3 linked regions of the Homo sapiens genome follow. The protein of the gene in region 2 purifies or fractionates together with the protein of the main gene of each other region. This does not show direct contact. Each region holds a gene or a part of one and is shown on either strand. Other genes may lie near its edges.

Region 1 (7,040 bases), on a different chromosome or scaffold from region 2:
GGCCCCTGCAACCCTCTTGATACTAAGAATGCAGGTCCCTTGTGTGTGTATGACTTTGGGTAAAAGCATTCTCACAGGTAGTTTCCAGTTGGAGTCTCATAATTAATTGCACAAGATGAGTATGAGAGCTATATTAAATATTATTAGCCTCCTTGTACAGATTAAAATAAAAACTCTAATGCTTAGAGAGATTACATGGTAAGTAGGGGAACCAGCCCCAGAACCCCAGACTTGGGTACCCCAAGCCTGCTTTCCCCTTTTTCTACTATACACCCCCTAAGTGTGGAAAACACTGAAATGATGGCAGTCTCCCATTGTCTATCCCTCACCAACATCCTTCTACTTCCTGGGTGATATTGTGATGTCACCCATAGTTGACACTGCAGAAATGTTCTATCTGTCCCCTGTGATTCTGGGAAAACCTCCAAAGATCAACGTGATTCTGAGATAGCTGTAATCTGTCCTCTGTGACCCCACAGCTGACAATCGGAAAAAGCAGAGGGTCCCGCAACGGGAGCGGAAGCGGCATGACTTCTCCTTGTTTAAGCTTTCGGACACGGAGATGCGGGTGAAGATCTCACCACAGCTTCTGCTAGCCACACACCGCTTCATGGCCACAGGTAGGACAAGTCTCCACTCCAGAGAAGCTAAAACAGAATCTCTAGGGTGGGACCCAGGCACCAATCGTTGTTAATACCTTCCAGCCTGATTCCAGTGTGCTGTCAGGACTGAGAAGCACTGTTCTAGGAAGGAGGTTGCCTTAGACAGGGTAATGGATGCCACCTACTGTCGTATTGAGCCCCAGGCCTGATCTCATAGAGGAAGAAATGAGTATAACTCAACTCTTCTACCAGAGAAAAGAGCTAAAGAAACCATTGCTGCACTTTTCCCTCTTCTACTCACTTCCTCGCTGAAGCCCGAGGCCATCTCCCTGTCTGTTAGACTTGCAGTGCCCTAGAGCAGTGCCACAGAAGCCTGTGAGCTATGAATTTTTAAAATACAGAAGTGTATTGTGAATCTTGGGATCTTTAGAAAGAAAAAAAAGTGAGAAAATCCAAAGATAAACTCCTTCTTGTGAAGAAGATAAAGTTTGTCTTTGAACCCTCTGACCATCCATGCCTAATTAATGTGCTGACCTAGAATGATCATATCTATCACTAACTTCAATATTTAATTAATCCAACATATATTTATTGAGTATGTAATGAGTGCTAGCACTGTTTTAGGTGCTAAAGAGTAGAAAATTTTAAGTTGGAGCTGCTTTAAGATAGAATTTCTAGTTCTGAGTACAGATTTCTTTTAACTACTTCCCAGAGCCTATGTTATATAAGTAATATAAGTTTAACATATGTAATATAAGCAATAGCTGTAATATATAAATATGATGCAATGATGCCTCACATTATTGACAACTTATTATTTAAATAATTGCCTGTCTTTAGTAACATGGGATTTCATTTCATTCAGCAGATATATGTCATACAAATAAGCCAGATTAAATTATCTGCATTTCATTCAATTATAGCATTAAAGTCTTTGTTGTTTATGTGGCTTAGTTGTCCATGTCCAATTTTAAATAAAATCAAAGAAAATTAATAATGAAACAGACATTTCCAAATGGAGACCTGTTTCTCCTGAGATGCCAGTGCAGGGACACACATCTCCAGAGGACGTGGGTAAGGCCCTGAGATGCACACTTGGGATTAGGATCCTCCACTCCGGAGGAACTGCAGAAGCCCTGCCAACCTGATGCCCAGGTACAGGCACAGGGGTCCCAGTTGTGCCCACTCTGACTCCTCCCAGCTGCCACTGCTGGAATGGGTGGGACACAGCTGATGCTGATTCCTCCCTTCCCACTCACTCTCCTCTAGAAGTGGAGCCCTTTAAGTCTCTGTACCTTTCGGAGAAGATCCTGCTCCGGCTCCTGAAACATCCCAACGTGATCCAGGAGCTGAAGTTTGATGAGAAGAACAAGAAGGCCCCGGAACACTACCTCTACCAGCGCAACCGCCCTGTGGACTACTTTGTGCTGCTTCTACAGGTGAGTAGGAAAGTCAGGGAACCTCTGAGAGCCAGAGGAGGGCATCTCCAGGGTGAAGAAATGGCCATGCCTCCGTCAGCACCAAGTTCCAAGACTTGGCTGGCTGCCTCAGCAACAAGGCCAGCTGGGTGGACATTTCTTCATGACCCACAGGAGGGGCCTAGACATGGAAGACTGGTGTCCTGGGAGTGCTGGGATCTTTGACATTTAGTTTGACAACTCAGCGATGTTTGGGGTGGGTTGAATACCTCTCCAATAGAGGGGTTCTGCATCTAAACTTCCAGAACTGCTGCTCTGCGGAAGCTATAATACCTCCTCATCTCTGCTTGAACATCCCCTGAAATGAAACTGCCCACTGCCTCCTAAACTTTAGACAACTCTTCTTTAAACCCTTCTCTCTGTCAAGTGGAAATCTCACCATCTGTGACTTCCATACTGGTCCTTGCTCTGCTCTCTGGAGGTACATGGGACACATTCATTCTCTCAGCTGCATTTCAGCCTTTGCAGTTCCTGAAATCTTCTCCCCCTTCAGAGGACCAGGAAGGGGGAAAATGACCTGTTCAAAGAAGTGCAACATCTCCCCAGTGCTCACATAAGTATGATCACCTTCTGCTCTGGATACCTGAATAGGCCTGTCTTAAATAAGTGTCTGACATGATTGCAGCTTGTAACACTGCTGGTGCCCTGTCTGGCTTCACCATTAGCTCTGTCACTGATTCCCTGTCCCTTCCCAACATAATGTTGTGAATCCTAAATACACTGATTGTATTTTAAAATCTTGATTAAGCTCACATGAACTTAGAAATGGTCTCTTTGTTACTGTCCACTTCCAGCCTCTCTGCTCTGTCACTGTAACTTGCCTCACATATATCTTTCCAAATGGTCTGAACAAAATGACCTCTCTTCTCCAAAAAATGTAGTCATGTGCTTCACTGTTGGAAATCAACAAGAATCCTGTTACATTGTTTGTATAATGTAATGATCACATAGTTTCATGTCTTATGCTGAATATAAACTTAACGGTTTTCAAATAAAACATGGAATAAAATGTAGTAGCAAGAGTGTACGCTCAGAAATTTGAAAAATATGGCTTTAAAATTCCATTGTTGCCATTTCCTAACTAACCTGGACCAAGTTATTCAATCTCTGAGCCTCAAAATTGAGTTCCCTGTAAATCAGGGATAAAAATGGCATAGGCTTCATGGGGTTGTGGGGCTAATTGCATGAGAATCTATGCAGTGCACATAATACAGTGTCATGTCCATGCATGCTATGCATTACATATCAGCTATCACTATTATTGGCAATGAATTAAACAAGCTTCACACAGAATTAGATTTTATCTTTTTTTTTTTTTTTTTTTTTTGAGACAGAGTCTCGCTCTGTCACCCAGGCTGGAGTGCAGTGGCCCGATCTCAGCTCACTGCAACCTCTGCCTCCCTGGTTCAAGTGATTCTCCTGCCTCAGTCTCCTGAGTAGCTAGGACTACAGGCATGCACCACCACACCCAGCTAATTTTTGTATGTTTAGTAGAGATGGGGTTTCACCATATTGGCCAGGCTAGTCTCAAACTCCTGACTTCGTGATCCACCCACCTTGGCCTCCCAAAGTGCTGGGATTACAGGTGTGAGCCACCGCACTCGGCCTAGATTTTATCTTGACCTGACTTAGAAATGGTCCAATCTTGGACTAAACCAGTGGGGCAGTTTATGAGGCCCTGGATTAGCTGGTGCTTAGGCCTGCATCATGGAAGGGCCACTACAGTATGCAAGGACAGCTTGGTTATTCATGACTGGATGCTATTTTATGAACAACGAAGCACTGAATTTACTGCAAAGAGCTATTAAAGCTGGTGGTGCTTTCTCACATGTAAATCTGGAGAGAATTAACATTCCTCTGTGATAAGAACATGGGTCTAGTCCACTTGTTATCCAAGCAGAAATGCTTAGGATTCGAGTCAATAGTAGAACTGGAAGTGCTCATACACATTCATAGTACACTTCCTTTTTTTTTTTTCCAGGGTAAAGTGGAGGTGGAGGTTGGTAAGGAAGGCCTTCGCTTTGAAAATGGAGCCTTTACTTACTATGGCGTCCCAGCCATCATGACCACTGCTTGCTCAGGTATTCTAGTTTCCATTTGTTTATTGGGAAAGTAATGGGATATGGTAGAAAAAGCACAGGGGTTCAAGTCTTGACTCCCCCTTTGACTCTTGTTAATCAGCCTGGACAAGCCATTTAACTTCCTTGGCTTTAGTTCCTTCCTCTGCAAAATGGGTGTATGAATCACTTTTCATTCAGTTAGTGCTTAAAAAAAAAGTGACAAAAAATTGAATTGTAAAAAGCAGTAATATTGTCAAGTGTTAGGGATCTAGGGTGGTAGATTTCAGTATGAAAAGACAAGTTTATTTTGCTTTTTATACTTGTTCCCTACCCTTCCATTTAATTGCCTGGTTTTTACAGGGTTAATTGGTGCTGGGGGTGGATAGAAGAGGGAAGATTCCCATAAGAAGTGTGTTTTCTGAGTTGCCTCTGAAACCCACTGCATGCTTCTGTCCTTAGATAATGACGTGCGGAAGGTTGGAAGTCTGGCTGGATCTTCTGTCTTTCGTATGTATCTCTCAAACCCCTTCCTCGTCCTCCCCATCGTAGTCCTGCCTCAGCCCGCTCTGGGGACCTGGACCGAGCACTTTGAGCCTGGGCTGGGGCTAAGACAAATGCTGGCAGCCCCTTTGTAATGTTCTGCCAGGAACACTGCTTCCTGCCAGGTACCCACAGACCATGGGAGCTTAGGTTCTGTGTGTCTGGAATGTTTTCTGCTGCTTCTCTGCTCACATGGTTGGGGGGATGCAGGGGTTGTGAGGGAAGGCACTGCTTATTGCCACCTTCCAGTGAATGCAGGCAGGTGATTTGTGTGCTTGGGCAGAGGCTCAGCCCTTCCTTCTGTGCAATAACAATTCACCCATGGCCTTTACTCAAACACTGTCATATGCTATTATTGTGTCTGTGGGGTTTGTCCTCAGTAAGAAGTGACTGCAAGATTTGGGGATGTAAGTTCCACCTTTGTGCAATACGTTGCTTATCTGCCTCTCTTTCTTGGTTCTCCACCTCTCAGCTAGTGGAGAGGTATCTGCCAGCTGGCTGTGCATGCTGTTGGTGGGGGGCAGGCACAGGGCTGATGGCTGGTTTGCTCTGCCCTTTCTGTGCTGTGCCTTCTTGCTGTTTTCTGTGTAGTTATTGCACTTGTGCTTAAAGGGCATGGCATTTTTTGTGATTAAAAGTGTGATACAGAAAGAATTATTTCTCTAGATTTCTTTCTGATTCACAGTTCTGAATTTTGCATTGCTTTCAGCTGTTAGTGTTTACAGTGACCACTTCAATGCCAAATAGGGTCTTTCCTCTCATCATAAAAAAAGATTTTACATATTGCCTTGTGGTGGGAATTATCAGAGGGTCCCAGAGCTTGATATCATAGTCCCTGGAACATGGCAAGGTAGATACCATTTTAACATGAGTGAAACTAAGGAAATGACTTGCTTCAAATCACCCAGTAAGTTGGTGACCGGCCAAGATGCTTCCTGGTGTCCTGGCTAGTTCACACAGCACAATAAAATACAGATTTCAGATCCATCATATTCTGGAATGCAATTTCTAAGTGGAAATAGTGGAACAATTTACAGTGTAATTGTTACAGTGTAATAGCCCAGCCAGTGGTTGAAATGAAGTACCTGCCCAGTGTGAAGAGTGGCAGAACTTGAGTTGGAGGAGATCTGTAAAATTGAAAAGACCCTGGTACATTATTATACTTAAGACAATGAATCTCAATCAAGGTTGATGAAGGAAGCATTAGTGTTCAGTAGAACTCTGGATGGGTGAGGGACGGGCTACAGGACTTTGGCAAACCTTAGTTCTCTAAAGGAAATCTCCATCATCCATCACATTAGGGACTACTCCTGGGATTCTAATATGTTACCTAGAAATGTCTGTGATCTCTTCCAGAAGACTAAAAGAGGTGGAAATTCTGAGAAAAAAAGACCTACATATGGCTTCCTAGCCCACCCAATTTATATGACCTTCTTTCTTAAAAAAAAAAAAAAAGAAATTGCTGTGGCCGGGCATGGTGGCTCTCACCTGTAATCCCAGCACTTTGGGAGGCCAGGACGGGTGGATCACATGGTCAGGAGATCGAGACCATCCTGGCCAACATGGTGAAACCTTGTCTCTACTAAAAATACAAAAATTAGCCAGGCATGGTAGCACGTGCCTTTGATCCCAGCTACTAGGGAGGCTGAGGCAGGTGAATCACTTGAACTTGGGAGGTGGAGGTTGCAGTGAGCCAAGATCATGCCACCGTACTCCAGCCTGGCTACAGAGCAAGATTCCATCTCAAAAAAAAAATTGTTTTAAGTAGAAGGAAGATGTTATCTGATTTCTTCCTTTCCTTCCTTCCTGTTTCTAGTTCTTTCTTTCAAAAGCTTTCAGTTGCATCAGTGAGATAGAAATAAAGTTGCAACATTGATTTCTCCTTTAAAACTAGTTAACTGAAAAGAAACATAGCACTCTTTCTCTTTCTCTCCCCATGTTACTGAGCATCTCTGTAAATCTTCAGAAGGAAAAAGAAATATTATTAGCCAATGGGGTAAAAAGACATTTTCCATCCTCCCCGAACCCATACTTAGTGTAGTGAAGTGTGAAGTAACTGCAAAGGCCAGCCATACCCCACAGTTATCCCGGGTGAATGCTCAGCCCATGGTCCAGCCACCCAGCATCTTTCACTGGCCAAGAACCTCAACCTATAGGTTGAGGGAGAGCTTAAGTCTAAGCTAAAAGGCAATAAAATCTTGTAGGGTCTTGGCCCAGCCCCGTCCCCCTATGCTTGAAGCTAGCTTAATCAGCCTTTGAGGATGAGGAGTGAGATTATGAGTTTGCTGGAATACTGGCACGATGACCTATGCTTCAAAGTTGAACTTGAGGCTACAAAGAAGTCTCTGGCTTTCCTGCAT
Region 2 (7,040 bases):
TAAGGAAAACAGATACACAGGTTCATAACTTTAAAAGCAGAAAGAAAAAATCTTTTTTCAGATATTGCAAATAACTTGAATAAAGTTATCTGAAGTTAAAATGGCACTTATATCTATGTTTTATCAATGTGTATATGTATTATGTATATATTACATACACACATTATACTGTCTACATGTAGTAGTGTACACATACATATTACAAGATTTTTTAGAATGAATAGCTGAATAACAATGCATTCTCAGCAAACGACCTTATAATCATAAACTACCCTTCATTACATACTATTATATCTACTCTATAGGCAGAAAAACTGATGCTGAGAAGTTAAAAGATTTACAAACTAAGGTCTTAAAAGCACATTAGGAGACACCATCATTATAATGCTGAAGATCTTCACATTAATGACTTTCTGAATAGATTTTTATTGCTGTTTTTTACTTAATTACTTAATATTATCTATAAGGTATTTTTCAAACTCTATTCTTTAAAAGGTGCTACGTACTTAATGCTGAATGAGGCAACTAAAGTGAGACATGAGCTCTGTCTGTTGAATAATGGGTCCTTGCCTTTCTTTTTTTTAAACTGTGTTTCTAAAATTTGAATAAAAACTCTATTTATATGGTTCTTCTACTTAGGTGTTTAAACTTCAAAGTAAATTATCCAAATTAATCCTATTAACTTATCATAATAAATTGGATTATTCTCATTTTAGAGGTGAGAAGCCAGGCACAAGAATAGGCTATCTGCCGTGGGTCACACACTAAGTGTGAGGGAGGTCTGGAGTTAGAACATGTTATGTCCTTGGCTCCTCATTTATTTTTCAGGCTGAAAGGCAAGATTGTTCATATTAATCATCTCATTCCAAAATCACTTGAGGAAGCATGCAATTTTCTGAAGGAGAGGGGAAATCATATCCTGAAAGTTACAAGTATAAAGGAATACATCAGGAGTTTTGATTTCACTGTACTTACGTTATAATTCACTATAATTTAAGTTTTAAAAACTATTCACATATCTCATTACTGCAGTACCATGAATCACAAGCTCTATTGGCTGAGACTCTATTTGCCTAGAATTAGTCTCATGCTTTTATAGGAGAGATACAAGCTAAGAAATAAAATTAAATGAGGAAGATAAACATTGGTTCCATGTTAAAATGTATTTGATGGCATGGAATTTGCAAGACATCAATTTTCAGCCTAGCAGATTACAGAATAGGATCCATTAATCCTAGTCAACATTGAACACTTCAGAGGAACAAGAACATGACACCTGAAGGCGAGTAATGCATGGAAATACTCACGATATGTTCCTAGAAAAGCTGAAGAAGAGAATGAACTAAGTCCACAGGTTAAAACAACATTAAATAACCAGGCCTTTAGCCCCTCAAAATAGATGAAAAATATAACCAGAAACATCTTTTAACCATTGCTAAATAGCTAGAAAACTCTGTGCTCTCCAAGTAGGGTTAGGTATGTAAACAAGTGCTAACAGATTGATATAGGCTTTCTGCTTCCTATGAAAACTAAGGTTTCATGTTGAAAGCAGCATAACCAGCACATTCCTAATTACATGCATTTTTCCAGGTTCCAACGTGGCAGCAAAAGTACAAGCAAGGAAGACAAAGAGTTGTCATGCTAATGAGACATACCTCTTGTACTGAGCGAGCTGCTGGCTTGTCTTGATGATTGGCCAATATTAAAAAGGGTAAAGTGCATAACTGTGGATGCTGAAGAGCTGAGTGCAGCTCATTTCTAGCAGCTTCTAAATCATCCTCTGAAGAGGCACTGTCTAATACAAATATTACCCCTTGAGATCCTTGGTAGTAGCGGCTCCAGTATTTCCGGATGTTATCAGCCCCTGTCAAAAACAAAACAAATTTTCGTTTTAAAAAGAGCTTTCAGCAACTGAAAAATGTTCCCAACAGTAATTCCTACTGGAAACCAATGTACCTTTTAAAAATTAAGTGCTAAACTCTGTGGTATGGATTAAAACAGGAATTTAGAAAAGGCAGAAATCACAGTGGATGGGAACAAAGAAGGCAGTAGAGCCAATAGGTAGATTTGGCCTTGAAGGAAGACACAAAATCCAAGCCATTCTTAATGACTTTTATATAAAAATGTGTGTGAGAGAACCAGGATAAATACTTCCTAGACTTAAACTCAAAAGGATATTTTCAGACTTTAATCATCTCAAATGAACTACACACTCTCTAAAAATTGAGACTGAACCTGCCTCAGAGAGCTGCATGGCCTAGACATCCACCAACGCTTCTTTCCAAACCATTAACATTAGCTTGGTGATACTTTTTTAACAGAACTGCTTGCTGATCAGGACAGCCTTGTTTAATTTCACCTAGGGAGTTATTAGCACAATAGCTTTATGTGTCAAAGTGCTAAAGTTTGTGAAAAACTAAAATCATGGCCTTTGATACAATTACATGATTCTGTTTGGCTTCATAACCCATGAGGAAAAATAACAGACAACAGGTGTACACTTATGATCTCAATGAGATAAGATGTTTATTAAAACAAACAAATAAACAAACAAACAAACATATGGAGAGGCTGGGCGCGGTGGTTCACACCTGTAATCTCAGTACTTTTGGAGGCCAAGGCAGGTGAATCACCTGAGGTCAGGAGTTCAAGACCAGCCTGGCCAACATGGTGAAACCCCATCTCTACTAAAAATACAAAAATTAGCCGGGCGTGGCGGCGGGTGCCTGTAATCCCAGCTACTTGGGAAGCTAAGGCTGAGGCAGGAGGATCGCTTGAACCCGGGAGGTGGAGGTTGCAGTGAGCCAAGATCGCGCCACTGCACTCCAGCCTGGGCAACACAGCAAGGCTCCATCTCAAGAAAAAAAAAAAAAAAAGCAACACCACATGGAGAGTCTCATCAGCCAAGGCATGTCATGTAGTATTCCTCTTTGTATTTCCATTATATAGCACAACATCTAACTCAAAGTTCAGTACTGGAATAATGAAAATTGAGGGAATGAGGGAGTAAAATTATATACTAATTAAGCTTTACAAATTTGAGACTAGAACAAACTCTAGAGATGATTTAGTCCAACTCTCTGAGGAAACTGAGGCAGACAGAGGTAAAGTAAGTGATCCCTTGTCATGTATCTAATAAATCACAAAATTGGGATTTGCATGAGTTAGCAGACAACCTGCCCAGGGAAGGCATAGGCACTTCCCATTACATCATGGTGACTGTTTTCATCACTTTCATTCAAGAATAGGAGGGGCAATATGTGTGCATGTGTAGGAAAGGGGTGCTACTGGTTATATAACGACAATTAGATTTCAAGGAATTTCACCAATTTATTGCATATGATCAAGTCCTAACCAGTTAATAACTGTATTTCAGTCATCCACTGAACATCTAGCTCCTATGTTTGACATATTGTTATGTGTTAGGGAAACAGTGGGGACTGCAGTTGGTGTGCCCTGGCTGGCAAGGGTCACCTGTTTGCTTCTCTTCCCAACTCTGTGCTCAGTGACATCCTGTTGGTAGCTTGAAATCAATCAGGGTGAAAGCACTGTCACTATGGAAATCAGCAAATCCTACATATCGAGTCCTTTCATCTCCCAGAGAGCCAACACACCACTGATGACACTGAGCAGCTTATATTTTCTGGGAGAAATAGAAAAGAAAACTCAAAGATTATAATAGAGTACAAGAAAGTGCTGTCATAGAGATACTCATTAGGTCCTCTGGGATCAAGAGATAGGCATTTCATCCAAAGTGGGGCAATTCTTTTTTAATTTCATTTTTTAAATTTGAGATGGGTTCTCGCTATGTTGCCTAGGCTGGACTCAAGACTCAAGTGATTCTCCTGCATCAGCCTCTTGGGTAGCTGGGACTAAAGGCACATACCATGGTGCTTGGGGCGGTGGGGGTAAATTTCTTGAAAGAATAATATCAGTAGCCAAACAGCTCCCATTTATTAAACACTTCCTATCCTCCAGGTACTAAGTGTTTTAAAAAGAAAAGCTCATACAATTCTTACAACAATCTAAGGAGGGAAGTATAATTGACTAAGCCTTTGAAACTAATTTTCAGGTCCTAAAATCTGTGATTTCACCATTATACTATACAAAAATAACTAGGTATATATTTAATAAGAGGATCAAGGACATTTGATGTTGAGTAATGTTAAGTATGTGAAGACATGGGATATGAGCAGGGTTGATGCATATCAAGCAGGGTCCAACTAAGAAAACAAAACAAAAATAAAGAGGAAATTTAAGCCAGAGATTATTTAATATAGGGAATTCATTACTTAGGTGGTGGTGGAACTAAGGAAACAGCAGGGGTACTGAGATAAGCAACATCTTAGGTCCGGTTCCCTAGACACAGAGCCTGAGACATCATTTCTTGTACACCCGATTTAGAGGGAGTGCTGTCAGGAGAAACTAGAAGTGAAAGAAGTAAGCTAGAATGGGGGAAGAAGCTAGGCAAAGATATTGTTTCAGAAATCTAGCCTCAGCTTGATGCGATAAGGAACTCTAAAGCATGGATTGAACCACAGAAGTTGTCTAGTCCAAAGGCAAGGGAGCTGAGCTATTACACCCTTGTATAGTCATTAGCCATCCCTGGGGAGCAGGAGGGGGTTGGGGCATGATCTCATAATCTCCCAAACATATTTGGTTGGGGCAATTACTGTCAGCCAAGGGCAGGCCTCTGGAGAAGAGTACAGGTGTGAGTCATTAGCAGCCAATACCCACAGCAGCTGGGAGATGGATGCACTGGCCCAGGAAAGGAGATCTGGGTAGGATACCAACAGCATCTGCTACAGGCTACATCCAGACACTATCCATATGCTTGAGAACCATCCATAAGCTGGAGGGACAAAACTGGAGGCAGTGTTACTCGGTGGTAAGTGTTTAAAACAACAAAAATAGTGTGCATGTGTATCTGTACACTAGCTTGTTATAAATTTCACTAACATGAAGGATGTGCAGTGCACAGTTTTCATTGTAAGACTCAATGCAGCATGCTTTATTGTAAATTCCACATAGCCAACTAATGCCCACAGAATGCTTTCATTGAGTTTCTATCCACAGCCAACTAATGGCTGCAATTGACAAACTAGTGTAGTTCTGACATGAATGGTGGCTGCTCAAAGTGTTTTACGTATATTAAATCACTTACCCATGACAGTCTAATGACTATCATGAGGTAAATACTGTTATCAATCTCATTTTATCAACAAGGAAACCAAAACACAAAACGATTATGTAACTTGCCCAAGGTTACACACCTAATAAATATATTTAGGTCTAATGTGATTGAAATAGAGATCATGGACTAAAAAGGCAATGAGGCTAAATAAAGAACTATATTACCACATAAGCTAGGAGAAAAGAAATGGAACCCTATTGGAACAAAAGGTAAGTTAATGCCCACATACATTAATGGAAATATGTCCAAAAACATTTCCCAACTGGTTAATTCAATGGATAGTTATTAAGTACCTATTCCATCCATACAAGTCTCTGAGCTAGGACCTAAAGAGATATTTAGAAAGCCATTATTCCTCTTAACTGAAACCATCAAATCCTGTAAAGTAATACAAATTACAATGAGGCCTGCAAATATAGCAGGCAGAGCAAATACATCCACACATTAGATGGTGTCCAGTGAGTCAGGTATAAAGAGAATTTGGTTGCATGTTTTACTAGAGCTTGTCCCTTGGAAACACACAGGACACCTGGAAATTCAACTTGTGCAGTCAACTCTTTCAATGAGAAACTATGTTTTCATTGGCCACATTTAGGAGTACATATGGTACCTGCAAATAGTGAGACACATACACACACACACACACACACACACACACACACACACAAACCCAAAGAGAAATACCATAACTTTAAAAAATGTCCCTTATATGACATAATGTATGAATAATATATTAATAGTGAAAAGATCCTTTTCTTTAATCTCCTGCTACAGTTTCACCCAAGAATTCCCTTAATACGGCAGTAAAAGTTATTATTTTATTAACTTAGCTCTTAAACACACTTTTAAAATATTCTATGTGACTAAATGGGAAGTAAGCAAAATACATTTTTGCTACATACCAAAGTAGACAGTTGATTTGACAATAAGCACTTGTACAACTGTTTGAGTTGTAAGCTACTTCACACAACTCCATTTTTACTTGAAATTTCAACTGACAAACTATGATTATTCAGATTTGACTGTTTGATAGACATTTTCTCAAAAATAGATGTGCAAGCTTGTCATTTCAAGGAAAACAAATGATAGTATTTGTTGTCAATGGTAAAATTTGTTTTCAAGCAAAAGCTAGAATTTTAGAAAACTTATTTCTGCTAAGTTTTAAGTGAGCCTGACAGCTTTTCAGTGATGAGATTGGTGGTGATATTAATAGACAGATATTCATAAAGTAATCTGTAAACATTTGGAAGCTCTACACTACTCAGTGAACCAATATTTTCCAAATGACGAATGCATGATGTTACAAAACCATGCATAGATAAAAAAATACATTCAAAGTACAAGAAAGACCAATGCAAGTTAATTAACTGAGTACAAAAAGTTCCCTGATAAGTTTTCCAGATTCCACACTACAACTGATTAAGAAACAACCACCTGTTGAAGAATTTCAGTATAGTATCAAAGAAGACAATCAACAGTTACTTAAAAAGGTTATTAAATCATGCCTCCCTTTTTGAGTTATCTATGTGAGACTAGACTTTCTTCATATACTTCAACCCAAACAACATATTAACAACAGATTAACTGTAGAAGCAGATATGAGCATCCGGCCCTCTTCTATTAAACCAGATTAAAAAGATTTGCCAATTTTCTCACTATTTTTTTGTTTTCAAAATTGTTGATTTTCATTAAAAATGTTATTTATATTAACATGTTATGAGCTTATTATTCTTTTATAAAAATTTTTAACATGGCTTTAATTTCTGACATGGCACATATGGATACTCATTGTCTTTAATGTGAGAAAAAGACATTTAAGATCTACTGAAATTTAGGCATAAATTTA
Region 3 (7,040 bases), on a different chromosome or scaffold from region 2:
CAGCCTGGGCAAAAATAAAAATTTAAAATTTTTTAAAAAAAAGAAAAGAATACACTCTTAATTTTCTTTCCAAATGGATAAGGCCTATTTTTGTTGTTGTTGTTGTGACCTAAGTACTATTTTATTCCCTTGATCATTTTCATGCGCCTCTTTTTCTGAGTCCTTTTATCTTTGCTTTGGTTCATCAACGAAAACTGTATTCACAGATGGGGAATAAACGGTGGAATTCCTTAGAAGCACCGGATTCAGTTTTGTTTCCATGGGACTTAAAGTCTACTTATATCAGATGCCCTTCATTTTTTGATAAACTTGTAAGTACTGTTTTACTATTTGATCTTTTAAAGATTGTTATAAACTAAGAAGTCTTGTAAAGAGTTAAATGCCTTGAACTTTTACCTTCTAGACCAAAGAGCCAATTGCACTCCAGGCTATTGAAAATGCCCATGTCTTATTATATTTGGGAGACTCTGTCACAACAGATCATATATCACCTGCAGGAAGTATCGCTAGGAATAGTGCTGCCGCTAAGTATTTGACAAACAGAGGGTATGTGTACATGGCTTTAGAGTGTTTTTGTTTTTTCTTGTTTCTTACTGATTAAGAGGCTTCTATTGGTCTTGTTCCTTTTTTCCAGTAAATACATGCTATCGTAGGTAATCTGACTGCCAATGTGTTTGTCTTAAGCAAGAATGGAGAGTGGCGGGGTGGGGAGGCGGGGGGTACCTTCTGTACTTGTCTTTGCTTGTGACTTTAGAAAATGAAATTGCAATTTTAAATTGAGCCCTTATAGTCTAAATAAACAGCTGATTGGAAATAAGATTTTTCTTTTTCAGTGCTACTTTATTGAAAAGTCAGCTTGGTTTTACCTACCAAATGAAGCCTGCTCATTTGGTTAAAACCAGCTTCCCATTATTGGAGTAAGGAATTTAAATGTGTATTTTATGGGCTATAACATGTACGTGTGTGAGGCTGGGAATGATATGTACAAATCAAAAGACAATGAATTTCTGCTTCATGAGCCTAAAATTTTATAGGAACAATAAACGTAAAGGCCATTTATATTGGAGATATAAATTTAAAACTGGTAAGATTTCATTTCTACATGATTAATCATGTAGAGTTGCCCTGTTATCAAAGGACTGTTTTGACAATAGAGACAAAGTTTTGTTAAAAGCAGGATTTGTAGTACTGCTACCTGATTAGCTTATTGGATGCTTGTTTGATGCTTGAGTAATTAAAATGACAAGCTTTTTCATTGAAATTTATTTATTTATGTATGTATTTATTTATGTATTTATTTTTGAGACAGACTCACTCTGTCACCCAGGCTGGAGTGCAGTGGTGTGATCTCAGCTCACTGCCACCTCTGCATCCCGGGTTCAAGCAATTCTCCTACCTCAGCCTCCCAACTAGCTGGGATTACAGGCACGCGCCACCATGCCCAGCAAGTTTTTATATTTTTAGTAGAGACAGGGTTTCACCATGTTGGTCAGGCTGGTATCAAACTCCTGACCAAGTGATCCGCCCACCTCGGCCCCCCAAATTGCTGGGATTACAGGCATGAGCAACCGTGCCCAGCCAAAATGTCAATGTAGCTTGTGTTGACATGTGATAATATTGCACAGCTTTTATTATAAAGTGGTGAGAAATAAGTTTCCTTTCCTGTAAATATTTTTTTGGTTGTGATTTCCATCTTCATCATAATTGTGACATACCTCCAAAAAAGAAAAACAGTCAACACTTCTCTCAAATGTACAATTTTTGTAATTATTATGCCTCCTGATATGTATTTCTTAGCACATTTAATCCAGTAGTGCTCATCAATTAGAATTTTCTAAAAATAAAGACACTCAAACCTCCTACCACTCCCATCCTGAAGTAAAAATTTAAATGCACAAATTTAGAATATTGTTGCCTCTGCATAAAAGACCAAATCAGAGGCTGATAAAAGTCAGTTGTTGATTGTTGAGATACTTATGTTCAGTTATTTTTCCCTAAAAAGTTATATATGGTCACTAATCCAGTAGCAATACCCCCCGCACCCAGATTATGATTTCTAAATACTGTTTCCCACTATAGTGAACCAGTGCTTCATGGAGAAATTATTGATTCCAGATCTGGGACTGGAAAATGTACACAATTTTACCAAAAATTACCAAGATTACCAAAAATAAAATTACAAAGATTACCTGATGGTCACAGACCATCAGGCTTCTGTCTAAAGGTCTCAGGGTCAGGACCAGCTCATTAGCTTGAAAACTGGTAAATAATCAATTCTTTAACCAGCCTTTCATGTATGGAATGTATTTCAGCATAACCAAATCATTGATGAAGGAAAGTTTGTCATTTGTTTGTTTGTTTGTTTTTAGAGACAGGGTCTCACTCTTGCCTGGGCTGAAAGGCAGTGGCACTTGGCCCTCTGCTGCTTGGAACTCGTGGGCTCAAGCACTCCTCCTGTCTCACCCTCCTGAGTAGCTTGGGACTACAGGCTCGCACCGTCATGCCTGGATAATTTTTAATTTTTTGTAGAGATGAGATCTCCCTTTGTTGCACAGGCTGGTCTCCAACACATGGGCTCGAGCATTCCTCCCACTTTGGCCTCCCAGAGTGCTGGTATTGCAGGCAAGAGCCAACATACCTGCTGGAAAGTTTTTCTTTATAGAACTTTTGTACCTAAAAAATGAAGAAGGAATGGGTGAATTATAGTATCACTATTTTACGGTCTCTAATAAGCAATCTAGACCACAATGAGCAATCACTGGTAACATTCCAGGAAAAGACAGTTGGCTATCTTGTGCCTCCTAATAGAAGTACATATGACCTATGAAGCATTGTTGCCAAAAATTAAAAACCCAAATCTTATCAAACCACTGGATCTGACATGTGATTTACAAGAACAGAAGGCAGAAGAACATGTTAAATGATTCATGGAGATGCAGTCAACACAATGTGGGTACAGAAAACTATACAAGTAACTTTATTGCATCAGATAGAGCACAAGCAGGAGGAAGGAGAGGGAACATATACTGTCATTCTTCAGTATAGATGTGGGACTGGTTCCAGGACCACCCATGTATACCCAAATCCACACATACTGAATTCCTACAGTCAGCCTTGCAGAAGCCACATATATGAAAAGTCGTATTTGCAGTTTTCTGCATCCTGTGAATAATATATTTTCTGTCAGTGTTTGGTTGAAAAAAAATCGATGTATAAGTGGACCCACACAACTCAAATTCATGTTTAAAGGTCAACTGTAGATTAAAACACTTGAGATCAACTGAACACATTTATGAACTGCATTTGGATCCTGATTTGAACAAACCAACTTAGTTTGGAAATAATCAGTGACAATATTGACTATCTGATGTTAAGAAATTATTGTGATTTTTTTTTTTTGGTGTAAAGATTTTTTTTTAAGAGTCTACATCTTTTAGTGAAATGTACTGAAAAGTATGCTGTTAAAATTATCTCAGTTTTGCTTCAAAATAATCTAATGGGGTTGACTGTAGAAGAAACGGAGCATCTGTTAAGTTATAGCTTGGTGATAGGCGCATGGACATTCATGGTTTTGTTTTCTTTTGTGTTTGAAATTTTCTGTGATAAAAAAATTTTTCAATAGGTCTTACAGCTCAATAGTATGTGATTATTTTCCACATGTAATGAAAACTGACTTTCATTACTTTCTTGTAGCCTTACCCCTCGTGAATTCAACTCTTACGGAGCTCGAAGAGGTAATGATGCTGTAATGACAAGAGGCACTTTTGCAAATATCAAGCTTTTTAATAAGTTTATTGGAAAACCAGCTCCTAAAACAATTCATTTTCCATCAGGACAGACGGTGAGAATGCAAACAAAGTATTTAGACAATTTATAACTGGATCAAAATTTGTATTAAAAAATTTTGTGTTTGTTTTAATCTACAGCTAGATGTATTTGAGGCTGCAGAGCTGTACCAGAAAGAAGGTATCCCACTGATTATTTTAGCAGGAAAGAAATATGGTTCAGGAAACTCCAGAGACTGGGCTGCCAAAGGACCGTATTTACTGGTATTGAATCTTAAAATTTATCATCTTAAGCTTCAAAGAGTTTTAACTGTTCCCTTTTGTCAGTAACATCCTGTCAAAGTTTATCTGGATTTTTTATAGTTATTTGAACCTTATAGGTATAGAGGGTTTTGTTTGTTTGTTTATTTCAGTGATCTTTGGTAATATTTTGTACTCATCTAGTTAGTATCATTTTAATACTCTGAGTTTGGTAAAACCTACATCAGTCTTATGTGAAGAAGTCAGTATAATAGAGGGAAAGGAAATTCTGTTTTAAACTATTGTTTTATAATTATTTATACCTATTGATCATTTTTTTTGGTTTTTTAGTTTTGAGACCATGTCCTTGTCACCCAGACTGGAGTGCAGTGGCGCAATCACTGCTTGCTGCAGCCATGACCTCCCAGGTGCAATCAGTTCTCCTGCCTCAGCCTCCCAAGTAGCTGGGACTACGCCATGAGTTACCACACCTGGCCAATTTTTGTATTGTTTGTAGAGATCGGATCTCTCTATTTTGCTCAGGCTGATCTTGAACTCCTGGGCTCAAGTGATCCTCCCGCTGTGGCCTCCCAGGGTGCTGGGATTACAGGCTTGAGCCATGTGCCCGGCCCCCACTGTTAATTTTACTTGCCTCCTTTTGATTTAATTTTCTCCGATTTGCCCCATCAGTGGGTAAAAGACTCAGAAGTAGTAGGCCAAGTTGCACCTTTTTTCCCCCTAAATAGGAGATTGTGGTGCCTGGCTGTCTGCCAGGAGGACATTTCTCCTGAGACTGTTTCCTTGTTGCAGAGCAAATAGGCCATCTGCTGGGGGGGAATAGTCATGTGACATGTGCTTTTTGCCATTTCATACTCACAGATGCTTCTCTTTACAATTGTAGCTGTAAAAAGGCTGGCTGAAACACAGATACCATGCAGGCCTCATTCTTATTTTAATCTTTAATATCTCCTTTAAAATGTAAATACTCTGAGGGGCTGTGGGAATAAAACAAAATCTCATCCTTCTAAGATACTAATTATAAGTATTATTATGAGTATTAATGATAGGTATAGGTTATTTTTATCCTGGAAATTGTTTTAGTGTTTGTTTTTGATGTTGGAAGCTTTCCTTATATGGCAGGTGATGCTTGGCCCTCCATTTGTTAGACATTAAAAAACTGATTACAAGCCATGGATGGGGGCTGGGTTGTGTCAGTTACTGGGCCTTACTATAGGTGACTGGGTGATAAGCTACCTTTTTCATTAAGCGATTCTATATGTCATTATCTGTATTTTCTCTGAGGCCATTCAGTTTCTTGAAGGAAAGAGACTCGTTCAGTATGTAGACATCTACTTAGTCCCCTGTTTTCAATCTGGTATTCTCAAGCCCCTGTGCCCAGTGTTTGTCAGTTTAGAGAATGTATTCTCTTCCTTATTTCTGCTATAACAAAAAATGAGTAAAAATTTGTAAAAAATGAGTAAAAAAGAACAAAAATTGGTCCTCAGGTGGTAAAAAAAATTCTACTTTTTGCACATAAAGTACAGATAAGAGTACATTAAAAGATACACAGCATCTTTGTGGTACTAAAATTTTGGAGAGAAGGGAGGTGAACAGGAAGACACAATTTGGGGGAAAAAAGTCTTAAAAGACTCCTTAGGTAGACAGTGGAGAAAAAAGTTGAAAAACACAAGTCTAGAGCCTTTGGCTCATTTTTTCCAGAGAATAAACCTCTACTCTTGTGGAGTGGGGATTGAGCTGGATCTTACTGCTTTGTATGGCCTTGTAACCTGTGTCCACGAGTATTCTGAGAACCTCATGCCTCTGAATCTCAATCCTTTTCCTGGGTCTTGTGTTGCACATTAACTCAGACCTTACTGGTATCACTCTCTAATTTCATTTTATCATTCTGCGGTTTCAGCATTGTCTTCTAAATCACTTACCTATCTCTGTTTTCTAAATATTCATAGAATTCTCTCATCCTATTCCCTTTGTTGCTGTGGGCTTATACCCTCTTCATTATTGTTGTTACTTATTTGTATTTTTTGGAGACAGGGTCTCACTCTGTCGTCCAGGCTGGAATGCAGTGGCATGATCTCAGCTCCCTGCAACCTCCACTTACAACCTCAAGTGACTCTCCTGCCTCAGCCTCCATAGTAGCTGAGATTACAGGTGTGCACCACCATGTCCAGCTAATTTTTCTGTTTTTAGATAGAGATGGAGTTTCACCATGTTGGCCAGGCTGGTCTCAAACTCCTGGCTTCAAGTGATCTGCCCACCTCGGCCTCCCATAGTGCTGGCATTACAGGTGTGAGCCACTGCATCCAGCCTATTCTTGTTACTTTTTATTGTATTTTTTATTTTTATGTTTTGTAGAGACAGGGTCTCACTATATTGCCCAGGCTGGTCTCAAACTCCCGGCCTCAAATAATCCTTCTGCCTCAGCCTCCAAAGTACTGGGATTATAAGCATATAAGCCACTGCGCCTGGCCCTATATACCTTCTTTATTCCTTTATTTTAGTGGCATTTCAAGAGTGTTGAAAACATATGTTAGATCTGGCATGTTTAAATAGAAATCCTTCTGAGCCCTACTTTGGGGTCAAGGGAGCCGGCCCATTTATAGAGCTCTTATGATGTGGTAGGCAGCGGCAGTACTTAACCCTAGAGCAGCAGAAAGGGATCCGAATAATTTAGAGAGCTCCATAAAAATTCAGAAAAATAATCTGTAAGAAGGTTCTGTAAATACTTTGATAAAATATTGATTCAGTATGAGATATTAGACTAAAAGTATTTAGAGAAAGGCCAAAGTAGATTTTTGCCCCCTTTAAATGCTCAATAAATAACTTTCAGAAGTGATTAGAGGGAATAAAATGCACATTTATTACAGGGTGTGAAAGCTGTTTTGGCCGAAAGTTATGAAAAAATACACAAAGATCATTTGATTGGAATTGGCATAGCTCCACTTCAGTTCCTTCCAGGAGAAAATGCAGATTCCTTGGGCCTCTCCGGTAGAGAAA

What was found.
Region 1: the proteins of ARL15 (region 2) and CNNM1 purify together in Homo sapiens (co-immunoprecipitation; 3 studies listed by BioGRID and IntAct, with this or other methods). This does not show direct contact.
Region 3: the proteins of ARL15 (region 2) and IREB2 purify together in Homo sapiens (co-immunoprecipitation; 3 studies listed by BioGRID and IntAct, with this or other methods). This does not show direct contact.

Annotation. Positions count from the first base shown.
Region 1 is NC_000010.11:99,360,356-99,367,395, forward strand, and holds part of CNNM1 (metal transporter CNNM1), read left to right. Parts: intron 1-479; coding exon 480-620; intron 621-1,871; coding exon 1,872-2,041; intron 2,042-4,061; coding exon 4,062-4,161; intron 4,162-4,599; coding exon 4,600-4,647; intron 4,648-7,040. UniProt on the Homo sapiens protein: Probable metal transporter.
Region 2 is NC_000005.10:54,111,547-54,118,586, forward strand, and holds part of ARL15 (ADP-ribosylation factor-like protein 15), read right to left. Parts: intron 1,865-7,040; coding exon 1,656-1,864; coding exon of another isoform or gene 1,569-1,655; exon of another isoform or gene 1-1,568.
Region 3 is NC_000015.10:78,490,216-78,497,255, forward strand, and holds part of IREB2 (iron-responsive element-binding protein 2), read left to right. Parts: intron 1-206; coding exon 207-311; intron 312-403; coding exon 404-546; intron 547-3,693; coding exon 3,694-3,841; intron 3,842-3,926; coding exon 3,927-4,049; intron 4,050-6,910; coding exon 6,911-7,040. UniProt on the Homo sapiens protein: RNA-binding protein that binds to iron-responsive elements (IRES), which are stem-loop structures found in the 5'-UTR of ferritin, and delta aminolevulinic acid synthase mRNAs, and in the 3'-UTR of transferrin receptor mRNA.